Linked DNA regions of Homo sapiens. The protein of the gene in region 1 interacts with the protein of each later gene in a pairwise test. Each region holds a gene or a part of one and is shown in the gene's direction. Other genes may lie near its edges.

The links.
Region 2: the proteins of CMYA5 (region 1) and CAPN3 interact in a two-hybrid assay, tested with the Homo sapiens proteins (one large-scale study listed by BioGRID and IntAct).
Region 3: the proteins of CMYA5 (region 1) and PKNOX1 interact in a two-hybrid assay, tested with the Homo sapiens proteins (one large-scale study listed by BioGRID and IntAct).
Region 4: the proteins of CMYA5 (region 1) and MYBPC2 interact in a two-hybrid assay, tested with the Homo sapiens proteins (one large-scale study listed by BioGRID and IntAct).

What each region holds. Positions count from the first base shown.
Region 1 is NC_000005.10:79,727,588-79,731,784, forward strand, and holds part of CMYA5 (cardiomyopathy-associated protein 5), read left to right. Parts: intron 1-1,327; coding exon 1,328-4,197. UniProt on the Homo sapiens protein: May serve as an anchoring protein that mediates the subcellular compartmentation of protein kinase A (PKA) via binding to PRKAR2A. May function as a repressor of calcineurin-mediated transcriptional activity.
Region 2 is NC_000015.10:42,407,318-42,411,514, forward strand, and holds part of CAPN3 (calpain-3), read left to right. Parts: intron 1-893; coding exon 894-1,007; intron 1,008-1,985; coding exon 1,986-2,063; intron 2,064-2,469; coding exon 2,470-2,527; intron 2,528-2,613; coding exon 2,614-2,678; intron 2,679-3,110; coding exon 3,111-3,179; intron 3,180-3,270; coding exon 3,271-3,349; intron 3,350-3,566; coding exon 3,567-3,683; intron 3,684-3,969; coding exon 3,970-4,028; intron 4,029-4,197. UniProt on the Homo sapiens protein: Calcium-regulated non-lysosomal thiol-protease. Proteolytically cleaves CTBP1 at 'His-409'. Mediates, with UTP25, the proteasome-independent degradation of p53/TP53.
Region 3 is NC_000021.9:42,980,628-42,984,824, forward strand, and holds part of PKNOX1 (homeobox protein PKNOX1), read left to right. Parts: intron 1-4,197. UniProt on the Homo sapiens protein: Activates transcription in the presence of PBX1A and HOXA1.
Region 4 is NC_000019.10:50,452,912-50,457,108, forward strand, and holds part of MYBPC2 (myosin-binding protein C, fast-type), read left to right. Parts: intron 1-1,108; coding exon 1,109-1,268; intron 1,269-1,353; coding exon 1,354-1,458; intron 1,459-2,196; coding exon 2,197-2,385; intron 2,386-2,598; coding exon 2,599-2,733; intron 2,734-4,197. UniProt on the Homo sapiens protein: Thick filament-associated protein located in the crossbridge region of vertebrate striated muscle a bands. In vitro it binds MHC, F-actin and native thin filaments, and modifies the activity of actin-activated myosin ATPase.

The sequences.
Region 1 (4,197 bases):
AGGAGGAAATATGTTTATGAAGTGATGGCAAACGCGGCTGCTGCATTGGTCAGGAATGATAACCGCAGAGGAATTTAAACCCAGCCTTAAGGAGTAGGTAGAATTTACAGTTGCAGAAGTGGAGTATTGTCGGGGCTCTGCATTCTAAATGGAGGAACAGCGTAAGTACAAGTGAGGAAGAGGTAGAAGACAATTTCAGAGAAGAGCGCTACAGAGTCTAAGATGGGGGCCCAATAGCAAATGAAGGAGCGGCCAAAGCCAGCCATCTCGGAAGGGATGAGAGACCAGTCCACGGACACAGCCTTTCCACACTTCTGTATCCTGTAGCAGCTGCAAGTGATCATGCCCAGGCGCCTTTCATCATGTGTCATCAGGAAGGCCTGACTACAGATAACATTTATTGAGTGAGCACTAACTACATGCCAGGAATATTCCCTAAGCATTTCGCATGAGTTAACTAATTTAATCTTCTCAACAAGCTCACGAGATAGGTTCTATTATTATCCCTGTTTTATAGATGAGGAAAGTGAAGCACAGTAGGTTGACATTTTTTGTGACCTCTCTCTATTCAATGACCTGTTTTCTCTTTATCATGACTCAGAGTTCCCAAGATCTATTTGCCGAACAGTGAATTATTGTTAAAACAGGAATTTACCTGTAGGGGTAGGGTGCAGGTACACACTTGGAAAGAATGTCAGATAGGGATTAGAGAGCTAAGGATTTTGAACATCTTTTTTTTTTTTTTCTTCTGTGGATATGAAGAATTTGCTGAGATTTTAAAGCAGGGGGTGGCATACTGAGCTGGTTAGTAAAGCCAGTCTGGGAGGATGCGGCACAGTGGGTTAAGAGTGGGGGAAAATGAGGTACCTGTGATACCAGCTGACCAGTTAGGAAGTTAATGGCAGTGACTAGGAGGGAAGTGGTGAAAAGCTGGGTGAGGTGGCGATCGTGGTAACAGAGAGAGCACAGATACAAGAGTTATTATGAAGATGCTGGTGACTAGAGTGGGCTTGAGTGACTGCTGAGTCCCGACAAGATCAGGAAGGCAATCCTGATGAGAGAAGGTGGTAAATTTAACTTTAGCTTTTTTGAGTTTGTGGAATAGTGAGTCATTCCAGCCTGGGATGTGTCATTGTATTGGGTATCCTGACTTTGGTTTTTAAACTTTATTTGATATACATCCCTCTTTTTGACATGGAAGGCAATATTGATGTCTGTATTTTAATTTCACATTAATCCTTTACCTGGTAAAAATGTATTTACTTATTCTATTAATTAGTATTATTTTATTATGATAATATATAATTAATATTGTTATTTGCTATAGGTTATCAGACCAGGATGAAGAGGGAAAGATCAAGCAGGAGTATATCATATCTGACCCCTCCTTTTCCATGGTGACAGTCCAAAGGGAAGATAGTGGGATAACCTGGGAAACCAATTCAAGTAGATCTTCTACTCCTTGGGCTTCAGAAGAAAGTCAGACTTCTGGTGTGTGTAGTCGGGAAGGGTCAACTGTGAATTCTCCTCCTGGAAATGTTTCCTTTATTGTGGATGAAGTGAAAAAGGTTCGGAAAAGGACTCATAAGTCAAAGCATGGTTCACCATCATTACGCCGGAAAGGCAACAGAAAAAGAAATTCTTTTGAATCCCAAGATGTTCCAACAAACAAAAAAGGCAGTCCTTTAACTTCAGCAAGCCAGGTACTAACCACGGAGAAAGAGAAGTCATATACTGGCATTTATGATAAAGCAAGAAAAAAGAAGACCACTTCAAATACACCTCCGATTACTGGGGCAATATACAAAGAACACAAGCCATTAGTGTTAAGACCAGTCTACATAGGAACAGTACAATATAAAATTAAGATGTTTAATTCGGTTAAAGAAGAATTAATTCCTCTACAATTTTATGGAACATTGCCAAAGGGTTATGTAATTAAAGAAATACATTATAGGAAAGGGAAAGATGCATCCATTAGTCTAGAGCCAGATTTGGACAATAGTGGTTCTAATACAGTGTCCAAAACACGCAAATTAGTAGCCCAAAGCATAGAGGATAAAGTAAAAGAGGTTTTTCCACCCTGGAGAGGCGCACTCTCCAAAGGATCAGAGTCCCTAACCTTAATGTTCAGTCATGAAGATCAAAAGAAAATTTATGCTGATTCTCCCCTAAATGCCACATCTGCATTGGAGCACACAGTTCCCTCTTATTCAAGTAGTGGCAGAGCAGAACAAGGAATACAGCTCAGGCATTCACAGTCAGTGCCACAACAGCCAGAAGATGAAGCAAAACCACATGAAGTGGAACCTCCATCTGTGACACCCGACACACCTGCAACTATGTTCCTGAGAACAACAAAGGAAGAATGTGAGCTTGCTTCACCAGGAACTGCAGCTTCAGAGAATGACTCTTCAGTCTCACCATCATTTGCTAATGAGGTAAAGAAGGAAGATGTGTATTCTGCTCACCATTCCATTTCTCTGGAGGCAGCGTCACCAGGTCTGGCAGCATCTACCCAGGATGGTTTGGACCCAGACCAAGAACAGCCGGACCTGACTTCAATAGAAAGGGCAGAACCAGTCTCCGCAAAACTGACCCCTACCCATCCCAGTGTCAAAGGAGAGAAGGAGGAAAACATGCTTGAGCCATCCATTTCTCTTTCTGAACCTCTAATGTTAGAAGAACCAGAGAAAGAAGAAATAGAAACTTCCCTACCCATAGCTATTACCCCTGAACCTGAAGATTCTAATTTAGTAGAAGAAGAGATCGTAGAACTTGATTACCCAGAAAGCCCATTGGTTTCCGAGAAGCCCTTCCCACCACATATGTCCCCTGAAGTGGAGCACAAAGAAGAAGAGCTTATTCTACCATTATTGGCAGCATCATCTCCTGAACATGTTGCTTTGTCTGAGGAAGAAAGAGAGGAAATTGCATCTGTTTCTACTGGTTCTGCTTTTGTATCAGAGTATTCAGTACCACAGGATTTGAACCATGAATTACAGGAGCAAGAAGGTGAGCCAGTTCCCCCATCCAATGTAGAAGCTATAGCTGAACATGCAGTTTTGTCAGAAGAAGAGAATGAGGAATTTGAGGCTTATTCCCCAGCTGCAGCCCCTACATCTGAGAGCTCTCTCTCACCATCCACAACTGAGAAGACTTCAGAGAACCAGTCTCCACTGTTTTCAACAGTTACACCAGAATACATGGTCCTATCAGGAGACGAGGCCTCAGAAAGTGGGTGTTACACACCAGACTCCACATCTGCTTCTGAATATTCAGTTCCATCACTGGCAACAAAAGAGTCACTGAAGAAAACAATTGACCGTAAGTCCCCGTTAATATTGAAAGGTGTTTCTGAGTACATGATTCCATCAGAAGAGAAGGAAGACACTGGATCGTTTACTCCAGCTGTGGCCCCTGCTTCTGAGCCCTCTCTCTCACCATCCACAACCGAAAAGACTTCTGAATGCCAGTCACCACTGCCTTCTACTGCCACATCAGAACACGTGGTCCCATCAGAAGGAGAGGACCTAGGAAGTGAACGTTTCACACCGGATTCAAAGTTGATCTCCAAATATGCAGCCCCACTCAATGCAACACAGGAATCTCAAAAGAAAATAATCAATGAGGCATCCCAATTCAAACCAAAAGGTATTTCTGAGCACACAGTTCTGTCAGTAGACGGCAAGGAGGTCATTGGACCATCTTCCCCAGATTTGGTTGTTGCATCTGAACACTCTTTCCCACCACACACAACCGAGATGACTTCTGAATGCCAGGCCCCACCACTTTCAGCCACCCCATCTGAATATGTTGTTCTATCAGACGAAGAGGCAGTCGAGTTGGAACGATACACACCCTCTTCTACATCTGCTTCTGAATTTTCAGTACCACCATATGCAACACCGGAGGCACAGGAGGAAGAAATTGTCCATAGATCTCTAAATCTAAAAGGTGCATCCTCACCCATGAATTTATCAGAAGAAGATCAAGAAGACATTGGACCTTTTTCTCCAGATTCTGCATTTGTGTCAGAATTCTCATTTCCACCGTATGCAACCCAGGAAGCAGAGAAAAGAGAATTTGAGTGCGATTCTCCAATATGTTTAACATCACCATCTGAGCACACTATTTTGTCAGATGAAGACACTGAAGAAGCGGAACTGTTCTCTCCAGACTCAGCATCACAAGTTT
Region 2 (4,197 bases), on another chromosome or scaffold:
GAGGCCAGAGAGGATATTTTTGGTTTTTTTTGAGACAGTCTCACTCTGTCACCCAGCCTGGAGTGCAGTGGCTTGATCTTGGCTCACTGCAAGCTCCACCTCCCATGTTCACACCATTTTCCTGCCTCAGCCTCCCAAGTAGCTGGGACTACAGGCACCCACCACCACACCCAGCTAATTTTTTTGTATCTTTAGTAGAGATGGGGTTTCACCCAGTTAGCCAGGATGGTCTTGATCTCCTGACCTTGTGATCTGCCTGCTTCGGCCTCCTAAAGTGCTGGGATTACAGGCGTGAGCCACCGTGCCCGGCCAGAGAGGATATTTCTTATATGAGGGGCAGGGCTGGGATTCCAGCCCAGTGTTCTGATGGCTCACCCACTGACCATGCCACTAATCCGTGTCCTTTTTCAATCTATACTTTGCAGGGTTGTAGAGGTTCCTTTGAGGTGCCTCAGTAGCTGCCATGGTGATGTGGGGTGCTGAGGGCAAAGAGCTCTGTTCTCATTAATCAGAGAAGCTTGTGTTTTTATATACACCATGTTTCTGCAGGAAATTTAATTTGAACAGTGTTTCCATCTGGAAAAAAAAAAGTCTACAAAATACTTGACAATCACTGCACTAGATCATGCTGCTTTTAGCATTCTTAGCATTTCACGTGCTGAGCTCTCAATACTCTACCATGAGGAGGGATGGAGTGGGTATGAAAAGATAAAGAACTGAAGTCACACGGCTTGTCAGTGGCAGAGATAGAGCTTGAACCGAGGTTGAAGAGCTCCCGCCTATTCCTTTCCTCTTCTCACTGGATAAAGCTGCTCCAAGAGAGGTGCTGCCTCAGTGTGCCTGTTCAGACTGTAATCCTCCCTTCCTTCCTGCCTCCTCCCTCCTCTCTCCAGCCCATCATCTTCGTTTCGGACAGAGCAAACAGCAACAAGGAGCTGGGTGTGGACCAGGAGTCAGAGGAGGGCAAAGGCAAAACAAGCCCTGATAAGCAAAAGCAGTCCCCACAGGTGTCTGGGCATGTGGCATGGGTGGGGTGGCCAGCACGCTACAGGGGCTTCCTATGCGCTTGGGATACACAGGGGCTGGAGGCTTCCCAGGAGTTTGTCTTGAACATCTGGAGGTTTGAATTTGTCCCACTGACCTTTTCTTTCAGCAAGTTCCCCTGAAATTTGGGCTGCTGCTTGGGTGAATATCCCAGGATGGGGGTTCCATTCTAGGAGTGGACTGGCAGGCTGAGCCTCCCATGGAGCTGATCCAGCCAGGATACAGAGAAGGGGAGGCAAAGGCTGAGACAGAACCAGCTTGAGAGCGGAGGCGCAACTCTTGTCTCCTGGTGGCCTTGAGCATTTCACAATAGGGGGATAAAGGATAGGAGCAGAAAAGTGGGGCTGACTTCAGAAATGGGGTCCTCTAGAGCTCACGGGAGGGTGTTAGATTGGAGTGGGAGCTTAGTGGAGGTGAGCCTTAGAGGCAAAAGTCTCCAGACCAATCCAGGGCCCCTCTTCTATCCGGGGGCCCCTCTTCTATCCAGGGCCCCTCTTCTGTCTGGGAGCCCCTCTTCTATCTGGGGCCTCATGCAGTGGGGCCTAGGGGAGGTTCTCTGAGGACTTGGCCTTGATGACAGGGTGGCTGGAGGAATCAGAACGGTCAGACCTTCTTTGACCTGCGGGCACCTTTAGTTGGAATGGTCAGGCCTGGGATGGTGGAGGGGGCTCTTGCAGGTGGGGACTGGGGTGGCGGGGAGGAGGCTGTATGGCCGCCATATCTCCTTTGGCTGGGGGCGTCAGGGCTGGAGAGGTGTGAAGAGTCCCTGAGGCCTCGATGCATCTCACTCCAGCTCACCAGGTCTGCATTTGCCCGTCCCCAGCTCCTGCTGCCACCTCCGGCCGTTTTAGGCACTTGGCTCCCTTGGCCCAGAGGAGCTTGCCTCACAGGCCTGTGCACCTCTGACCCCTGTGAACCAGTTTTCCTTTGTGCCTCCACAGCCACAGCCTGGCAGCTCTGATCAGGAAAGTGAGGAACAGCAACAATTCCGGAACATTTTCAAGCAGATAGCAGGAGATGTGAGTACCTCCAAGCCCAGGACGCCCACAGGTGCTTCCTTCTCTCCTGGATTAACTGCTCAGATTACCAATTATTTCATTATTGTTTGGTAGAGGTCACTTTGGACTTTGGTGGAGCCAGGGGATGTGTGCGTAGCACACAAATCCACAAGCCCTTGAGTTTTGGACTGCCACGTCTGCTGGGGGGCTCAGAGGCCTTTTTGCTCTGAGCTGCCCACGGTGGTCCTGATAGCTGAGGTGCAGTATCTGGCCCCCTGTCTTCCTCAGAAAAGCCCCAGCTTCCCATGACATAATAGCACCGACAGGGATTTTACAAACACAGCCAGGTGGAATTTGTTTTGCAAAGTGTCCGCGCCAGGAGCTGCTGTACTCCTGAACCATGACCCTCCTCTCCCTTCCTCCTCAGGACATGGAGATCTGTGCAGATGAGCTCAAGAAGGTCCTTAACACAGTCGTGAACAAACGTGAGTTGCTCAAACCAAATGGGGGTGGGGTGGGTGGGGAGTCCCGTTGTCTCAAAGCAGCTCCTCACTCTTCTCCATCCCCCCAGACAAGGACCTGAAGACACACGGGTTCACACTGGAGTCCTGCCGTAGCATGATTGCGCTCATGGATGTATCCTTCCTGCCGCCCCTTCCCGACCCTCTGTCATCAGCCCACGGGGGCCAAGGCAACATACAGGGTGCCCAGTCAGGCAAAGGGCCCTAATTTGTGCCCAGGGAAACTTAAGGAGACCCTGATTCAGAACATCTTGGATACTCGTCTGAAAGGGGTTGTTAGAGGCGGAAGGGGAGGATGTTGGGTTGTAACTGCCCTAACCCCTGTGCTTCTCTCAGGCCTGGGATCCTGCCCAAGCAAAAGTGGTCCTTAGGAGAGCGGCTCCTGGGTTACAGAGTAGGCGCAATCTCTGACTGGTGGTGGAGTGGAGGGGAGGGTTAAATAGTACAACAGGGCAGTGGGTAGGACAGCCCGGAGTCTCCTAGACCCTCCCTCCAAATCCAGGGGGATTTTGCTGTGTGCTGTGTAGCCCTGACCTCCCTCCTCCAGACAGATGGCTCTGGAAAGCTCAACCTGCAGGAGTTCCACCACCTCTGGAACAAGATTAAGGCCTGGCAGGTGGGAAGAGAAAATGAAGCGTGGGAGTCAAGAATGGGGTTGATTTGGAGATTCAGTGTGTGACCTCCATCCTCAAATTTTCTATTGCCAGAAAATTTTCAAACACTATGACACAGACCAGTCCGGCACCATCAACAGCTACGAGATGCGAAATGCAGTCAACGACGCAGGTGCTGAGAAGGAAGGGGTGGCAGGGATGTGGACCCGAGACGGTGGGAGCAGGAATGGGAGGGGACTAGGCTACTAGGGCCCCACTAGAGAAAGGAGAGGGAAAGGGCTTCTCACTTTCCCTTCCCAGGTCACAGAGTGGCCGAGAGGCAGGGAAAATAGAAGGCAGGCCCAAGGCCTCCAGCTCCACGTCCACCTCTAACATGGTCCCCTCCACAGGATTCCACCTCAACAACCAGCTCTATGACATCATTACCATGCGGTACGCAGACAAACACATGAACATCGACTTTGACAGTTTCATCTGCTGCTTCGTTAGGCTGGAGGGCATGTTCAGTAAGTGGGAGAGGGGGGCTGCCCTCTGCTCTCTTGCAGGGGCAGTTGTGGCAACAGGCATCTCACCTGATAATCTCCAGTCTGCTCCATCCAGGCTGAACAAGGGCCAATGACCTCTTTAGGCCCAGAATGGGATGGCAAAGGGAGGGTTACTGGTGATTCTCTGCCTGCACATCTTTGTGCTGATGAGGGACAGCACTGGGCACATGGTCCTCTGAGGGGAAGTTACAGTAGTAGAGGCGGAGTGCGCCTGTAACTGGCCTCTGGCCTGTGCATTCTTTCACAGGAGCTTTTCATGCATTTGACAAGGATGGAGATGGTATCATCAAGCTCAACGTTCTGGAGGTAAAGCATAGGCACAGCACATTCCCCCTACACATTAAAACTCAAGGTGGAGGGGTCAACGGGGCGGACTGGACCCAGGGTGTGCTCCTCATTTCCACACAGTGGTGGAGGGAAGGGATAGGAACAGAACATGGAGGGAGGCTCAGCAGGCTCCCAGGACACATGCACT
Region 3 (4,197 bases), on another chromosome or scaffold:
TGAAGAAGAGAACAAATTATTTTGAAATACAGTTATTAAAATACTGTATTGAACCAAATTGGTGATAGTCCCATTTATTAGCTTAGTAACCGGATTGAGCTGTGGCTCTGGTAATTCATTTGGGAGTAGTGACGAGATTTTTTGTGACACTCTAATGCTTTGGAAAATACCTGTTGCTGTTCCTGCTAAAACTCCAGGGCTTATTGTCTGCCTTTGTAATTGAAGGAGTGCTACATTTCAGCTAGAAGTTTTTGCCTTTTATCATTCATGTTCACAAATACCAAGTTGATTTACTCTCAGCCTATCCATTTGTAGGAATATATGGTGTCCTTTCTTTACTTCCTCAAATGATTATATTGATGACAAAAGAGACAAGGAAATAAAAACGGCACAGATAGGGGAACCCAAAGCCTAACAGTGTGTGTCCTTGGAGGTGAGGGTGAAGGAAGTGGCTGCAGGCCCTGGGAAGTACCATCTTGCATCCGTGTGCAGCACTGAGTGGATACCTCATGGTTCTGTCTTGTGTACACTGTTCAGGAGGACATGTAGAGTGGACATATCACATAGAAGAAGGTCAGTCTGGAAACTGTTAGGAGAAGCACTCAAGGGCTGAGAGGCATGGTCCTTGGTGGAAAGAGCCAGCAGGCCTGGTGCTGGCGGTGCCCTGCTCGTGACAGTGTGCAAAGTCTGGAGCCTGGCCTGTTCCCGCCCTTGGCAGATGGTAGCTCCTTGTTTTGGATTATTAGCCCCTGCCGGTTTAGTTACTGTTTCTGGAAGATTCACATAGAAGGCAGTGTGGTAATTCAGTCAACGTGTTGTCTGGCATGTGGTATAAAACTCCTGTTTAAAGCTCTGATTCTGAGGCCATGCCTCAGGGACTTGAGAAGGGGACAGAGCAGCTTATTTTATTTTATTATTTATTTTATTTAATTTTAATTTTATTTTATTTTGAGATAGGGTCTCACTTTTTCACCCAGGCTGGAGTGCAGTGGCACGATCTCGGCCCACTGCAGCCGGGAGCTTCTGGGCTCAAGTAATCTTCCCGCCACAGCCCCCAAAGTAGCTGGGATTACAGGCACGTGTCATCACACCCAGCTAATTGTACTGTTTGCCGTCTGCGATTGACGCTGGAATGATTGGCTGTTTTAGTCGGGTTCTCAGGGTGGCAGGGAGCAGGCTGACTTCAAGTTGGGTGGGTGGTGAGATAGGTGGTTCAGGATCATGCAGGGATAAAGAAAACAGGAGTCTATGGGATTCTTGGGACCACTGTATTGTTGCTGGGCCTCTGGGCAGATGGAACCATGGTTTGTGCTCTGGCAGGATCCAGTTCTGCACCAGGGCTCTTGGCCTTCCGCTTCAATTAGGTGGTTGCCCTCCACTGTCTGTTCCATCTGTACGCTCCCCTCACAGTGGGGGCTCACCCAGCCTTACCTGCCCTGTACTCTCCCTTTTCCAGCACCCACCTCAGAGAGAGTGCCTGTGCTCTTTCCCCTCACACCACCTACCAGGCGCTGACCTTCGGGCTGGGGGCTGGCCTTGGGTGTTGCAGGGCTACCTGGCCCAGGGAGTGGTGCTTGGGGAGGAATGAGCTTCTGACACCTGCACAAGGAAGGCCCCCTTTGAGCAGGGCCTGCCAGTGGGGTTGGGTCACTCAAAGGGGCTGTGGATTGGTAGGTACTATGATCACAGTTTCCAGAACATAATGCCTGAGTGAGCGCATGTGTTTTGTTACATGTTCTCTCAGACATTTTATGAAGGTTTGTACATTTTTTTGCATTAAAAATGTTAGGAATTTAACTTGACAAGAAAAAGGAGCATAAGGCCGGGTGCAGTGGTTCACGCCTGTAATCCCAGCACTTTGGGAGGCCAAGGTGGGTGGATCACCTGAGGTCGGGAATTCGAGTCCAGCCTGAACAACATGGAGAAACCCTGTCTCTACTAAAAATACAAAAAATTAGCCGGGTGTGGTGGTGCATGCCTGTAATCCCAGCTACTTGGGAGGCTGAGGCAGGAGAATCACTTGAACCCAGGAGGTGGAGGTTATGGTGAGCTGAGATCGCGCCATTGCACTCCAGCCTGGGCAACAAGAGCGAAACTCCATCTCAAAAAAAAAAAAAAAAGTTTAATAAACATTAAATTGCTAAACTTTACGTTCTTCTAAATTTAGTTACGTATTTGAGCATACTTTTTTTTCCCCCACGAAACAGGGGCTTGCTCTGTTGCCCAGGCTGGAGTGCAGTGGTGCAATCTTGGCTCCCTGCAACCTCTGCCTCCCGGGTTCAGGCAATTCTCCTGCCTCAGCCTACTGAGTAGCTGGGATTACAGGTGCCCACCACCACGCCTGGCTAATTTTTGTATTTTTAGTAGAGATGGAGTTTTACCATGTTGGCCAGGCTGGTCTCGAACTCCTGACCTCAGATGAGCTGCCCACTGTTGCCTTTCAAAGTTCCAGGATTACAGGCATGAACCACTGTGGCTGGCCTTTTTTTTCCAATTTTTTGTTATGGTAAAATACACGTAACAAAATTTACCATCTTAACCATTTTCAGTGTGCAGTTCAGTGGTGGTAAGTTCATTCATACTTTTGTACAGCCATCACCACCATCTGTCTCCAGAACCCTTCATCTTGTAAAACTGAAACTCTATACCCATTAAACACTGCCTCCCCATCTCCCCTCCCTGAAGCCCCTGGCAACCACCATTCTACTTCCTGTCTCTGAATTTCGCTACTATAGGGACTTCATACCAGTGGAATTAGGTAGTATTTGTCTTTTTGTGACCAGCTTAGCTCATTTACCATAATGTCCTTAAGGTTCATCTATGTTGTAGTGTGTGTCAGAATTTCCTTCCTTTTTAAGGCTGAATACTCCATTGTGTGGATATACTGAATTTTGTTTATCCATCCCTCAACAGACACTTGAGTTCCTTCTACCTTTTGACTATTTTGAATAATAAAACTGTGAACCTGAGTGTGTAAATACTTCTCCGAGATCCTACTTTCAATTTTTTTGGATATAGATCTAGAAGTGGGATTGCTGGATCATACTGGAATTCTGTTTTTAATTTTTTAGGGAACCTCCATCCGATTTTTCGCAGCAACTGTACTGTTTTATATTCCTTTTAATTTAATTTATTTTTTATTTTTCCAAGGACTCAATAAGGAGAGAGTATCAGTTTACATTCCTACCAACAGTACAGAGGTTCCAGTTTCTCCGTATCTTACCCAACACTTATTTTCTTATGTGTTGTTGCTTTTTTTAATAGCAGCCATCCTAATGGATTTGAGGTGGCATCTTACTGTCATTTTGATTTGTATTTCCCTAATAATTAGTGATGTGGAGCATCTTTTCACATGTTCATCGGCCATTTACATGTCTTTGGAGAAATATCTCTTCAAGTCCTTTGCCCCTTTTTGAATTGGGTTTCTTACATGCATACGTGTGTGCGTGTGTGTGCGTGTGTGTGTGTGTGTGTGTGTGTGTTTTAAAGAGACAGGGTCTCATGATGTTGTCCAGGCTGGTCTCCAACTCCTGGGCTCAAGTAATCCAGTAATACTCCTGCCTCAGCCTCCCAAGGAGCTGGGACTTAAAGACATGGGCCCCTGTGCCTGGCTATGTTCATACGTTTTTACATATTTTTTAAGCTATATTGTGTTATGCTTTTAGTTGGCATTTTAGTGATTTTTAAAACATTTATATAATCCACACATTTCTCGTTTTAAAAATTTAAGGTCTCATACACTTTTGTGAGTCCAGTTTTTTTCTTTTTCTTTTTTTTTGAGACAGAGTTTTGCTCTTGTTGCTCAGGCTGGAGTGCGATGGCATGATCTTGGCTCACCACAACCTCCACCTCCTGGGTTCAAGCAATTCTCCTGCCTCAGCCTCCCAAGTAGCTGGGATTACAGGCATGTGCCACCCCGCCTGGCTAATTTTGTATTTTCAGTAGAGACAGGGTCTCTCCATGTTGTTCAGGCTGGTCTCGAACTCCCGACCTTAGGTGATCTGTCTGCCTTGGCCTCCCAAAGTGCTGGGATTATAGGCGTGAGCCACCATGCCCGGCCAGTTCCAGTTTTTTGTATTATTTTACGGCCATGCTCTATGTTGTGGAGCCTTTTGAGTATTTAGGTTTTGATACTTTCTGTGTTTTGCCATCCGAAAGCTGGAGTCCCTCTGACCCACCAAGCTTAGTGCTGACAGG
Region 4 (4,197 bases), on another chromosome or scaffold:
CCCAGGCCCTGGGACAGCTCGATTTTTCATTTCTTCTCTGTGCTTCCATTTCCTCTTCTGTAAAATGGACAGACTTGCTCAACATCCATCCATTTGCTCACTCAGCGTACATCCCCTAAAGTTTTCTCCGCACCAGGCACTGAGGATGCAACCATGAGTTGGATGCGGCTCCTGCCCTCCAAGAGCCTTCATTTTACTTAAAATTTATTTATTTATTTTTAAATTTGAGACAGGGTTTCACTATGTTGCCCATGCTGGTCTTGAACTCCTGGGCTTGGGTGGCACTCCTGCATCAGCCTCCCAAAGTGCTGGGATTACGGGCATGAGCTACCTCACCCTGCTCAGTAGCCTTTACTCTTGCGGAGACGCAAACACCTGCCCAAGAAGCCACAGTCCAGGGTGCTCTGGCTGAGATAAAGGGAGGTTCTAGAAGCTATGAGAACCCAGGGGCTGGAGCCAGCACTTCCAGCTAAGGGTATCCAGGAAGGCTTCCTGGAAGAGGTGTCTTCTGGGTGCTTCCTGAAGGATGAGGAAGAGCTTAGTGTTGCATGCACAGGGACCAGCCTTGCAAAATCTCTGGGACAAGGCAGTCTTTTTTTTGTTGTTGTTGTTGTTTGGTTGGTTTCTTTTTTTCTCTTTTTTTTTTGAGATGGAGTTTTGCTCTTGTTGCCCAGGCTGGAGTGCAGTGGTGTTATCTTGGCTCACCACAACCTCCGCCTCCTGGGTTCAAGCGATTCTTCTGCCTCAGCCTCCTGAGTAGCTGGGATTACAGGCATGCACCACCAGGCCCGGCTAATTTTGTATTTTTAGTAGAGATGGGGTTTCACCATGTTGGCCAGGCTGGTCGCAAACTCCCAACCTCAGTTGATCTACCCGCCTCGGCCTCCCAAAGTGCTGGGATTACAGGTGTGAGCCACTGCGCCCCGTCCAGTCTGGTGCTTTTAATGAAGGACGGCATTTGGAGGGCGAGGAGGGCAGTGGAGCGAGTGAGGACTCTGTGTGTTGATGGGGAATCATGGGAGGATTCTGAGCAGGGGAATGGCAGAGGCAGGCCTGGGTTTGCTTGGGGACACGATGGGGTGCAAGGCCATCTGGTGGCTGCGTTCAGGTATTCACGACCACCGAGGGCAGGACCCGCATCGAGAAGCGGGTGGACTGCAGCAGCTTTGTGATTGAGAGTGCGCAGCGGGAAGACGAGGGCCGCTACACCATCAAGGTCACCAACCCCGTCGGCGAGGACGTGGCTTCCATCTTCCTGCAAGTTGTAGGTGAGCAGAGAAAGCCGAGGTGGCTGGGCCAAGGGGTGACTCCCTGAGGCCTCGAGGGGCCACCTGACTCTCCTGCCCCCTGCAGATGTCCCAGACCCCCCGGAGGCTGTGCGCATCACCTCGGTTGGAGAGGATTGGGCCATCCTTGTCTGGGAGCCACCAATGTACGATGGGGGGAAGCCAGTCACCGGTGAGTGCCTCTGTCCTCATGACCTCTGACCTTCCCTCTTTCTGCCTTCTGTTTTTTTTTTTTTTTTTTTTTTTGAGATGGAGTCTCACTCTATCGCCCAGGCTGGAGTGCAGTGGCTCAATCTCGGCTCACTGCAACCTCTGCCTCCTGGGTACAAGCAATTCTCCTGCCTCAGCCTCGCAAGTAACTGGGATTACAGGTGCCCACCACCACGCCCGGCTAATTTTTGTATTTTTAGTAGAGATGGGGTTTTACCATGTTGGCCAGGCTGGTTTTGAACTCCTGACCCCAAGTGATCTGCCCACTTCAGACTCCCAAAGTGCTGGGATTACAGGTGTCAGCCACGGCACCAGCCTCTGCCTTCTCCTTGACCTCCCAGAGCCCTTAGCATCCTCAGTGACCTACCTCTGACCCCTGATTTTCCATTTTCCCATCTCAATCCCTTTGGTCTTCCCGCTTCCTTTACTCGCTGGTGACCTGGGAATTCTCACTTTGACCAGTAGCCTGGGTTTTTCTATGGCTCCTGGCCTCCTGGTTCATGAGCTGTGACCCCCTCTTGATTCCTGACTCCAGGACTGGTGGCCTCTGAATGCTCTGTGGCCCCTGAGATCCACCTAAGATTCATGGCCTCGGACCGCCCTGGCCATGCGATCCTCTGGATGTGGCCCTCACTCCCCCAGCTGACTCATGCCCCATGCCCTCCCGTTCCCTCTTCTCCTCTCTGCTTGGAGCCTCCAGGGTACCTCGTAGAGCGGAAGAAGAAGGGCTCTCAGCGCTGGATGAAGCTGAACTTTGAGGTCTTCACAGAGACCACCTATGAGTCCACCAAGATGATCGAGGGCATCCTCTATGAGATGCGTGTCTTCGCCGTCAATGCTATAGGGGTCTCCCAGCCCAGCATGAACACCAAGCCTTTTATGCCTATTGGTAATGTCCTCCCTCACTTTTATGCCTATTGGTAATGATGGATCACTCTGATCCATCAACCCCGTCCACCTCTGGCCCATCTTTTGCCCGCCATCAATCTCTGACCCTACCCCCTGGCCTTCTGACCAATCATTCTACCTCTGACTCCTGCCCCTTCCTGCTGACCCCTGACCCCTCATTCCCCCCATATCCTCTTTTTCTGGATGCTTGCAGCACCCACGAGTGAACCCCTGCACCTGATAGTGGAGGATGTGACAGACACCACCACCACACTCAAGTGGAGGCCTCCGAACAGGATCGGGGCAGGTGGCATCGATGGGTACCTGGTGGAGTACTGCCTGGAAGGCTGTGAGTGACCCTGGCAGGGCTGGTGGGGGTGGTGGCTAGCACAGGTGGGTATCCAGTCCAGGGAGCTGAAAATAGGACCATGTGGGACAGAGATGGGTGCAGTGGCCTGCTTGTGTTTTGTGTCTGTACTGTTATAAGTCTCTGGGATGGGACCCCCCTGTGACTAGTGTGTTTTCTCTCCCTTCTTCCTTTCTACATCCATCCTCCATACAGCAGTGACTTTCTGTCATTCCATCTATCCTTCCATCCCCCCATTTATCTTTTATCTTTTACCTTTATGCCTTCTTTCTTTCTTCTACTCATTTATCCATCTAACCAATCTTTCCTTCATCCATCTTAACATCCACCCATCCATCCATCTGTCCATCCATCTGTCCACCCATCTGTACATCCATCCATCCATATTTCCATCCATCCATCCATCCATTCATCTTACCGTCCATCCATCCATCCATCCATCCATCCATCCATCCATCCATCATTTCCATCCATCCATCCACCCACCCACCCACTCATATTTCCATCTATCCATCCATCCATCCATCCATTTATCCATCCATCCACCCATCCATATTTCCATCTATTCATCCATCCATCCATCCATCCATCCATCCATCCCTCCATTTGTCCATCTGTCCACCTGTCCATCATCCATCCATCCATCCATCCATCTGTCCATCCATCCATCCGTCTGTCCATCCATCTGTCCATCCATCCATCTGTCCATCCATCTATCCATCCATCCATCCATCCATCCATCTGTCCATATTTCCTTCGTTTCTCTCTCTCTCTTTTTTTTTTTTTTTGAGACAGAGTCTTGCTCTGTTGCCCAGGCTAGAGTGCAGTGGCACGATTGGCTCACTGCAAGCTCCACCTTCCAGGTTCACGCCATTCTCCTGCCTCAGCCTCCCAAGTAGCTGGGACTACAGATGCCTGCAACCATGCCCAGCTAATTTTTTTTTTTTGTATTTTTAGTAGAGACAGGGTTTCACTGTGTTAGCCAGGATGGTCTTGATCTTCTGACCTCGTGATCCACCTGCCTCGGCCTCCCAAAGTGCTGGGATTACAGGCATGAGCCATCGCACCCGGCCCAGTATCATTTTTTCATCCATATATCTATCTCTTCACCACTATCTTTGCTTCCTTCCCTCTTTCTACCTATATGGCCATCCAACCATCTGTCCACCTAACCAGCCATTGTCTCTCTGCCTGTCCATCCATCATCTGTACCTCCATACATCCACTCTCCATCCTCCACCAAACAAACATTCACTGAGCACTGACTTGTGCCCGGCCCAGTGCCATGGCTATGGAGATGTCTCAGACGCAGCCATCTCTCTGGGAGAACAGACGTGATCACCTCGACACACTATCCCAGGTCTTAAAGTCAGACAGATGCGGGTTCCAACCTTGCCCCTCCACTGTCTAACTGTGTGTCCTTGGGCAAGTCTCTGAGCCTCAGTC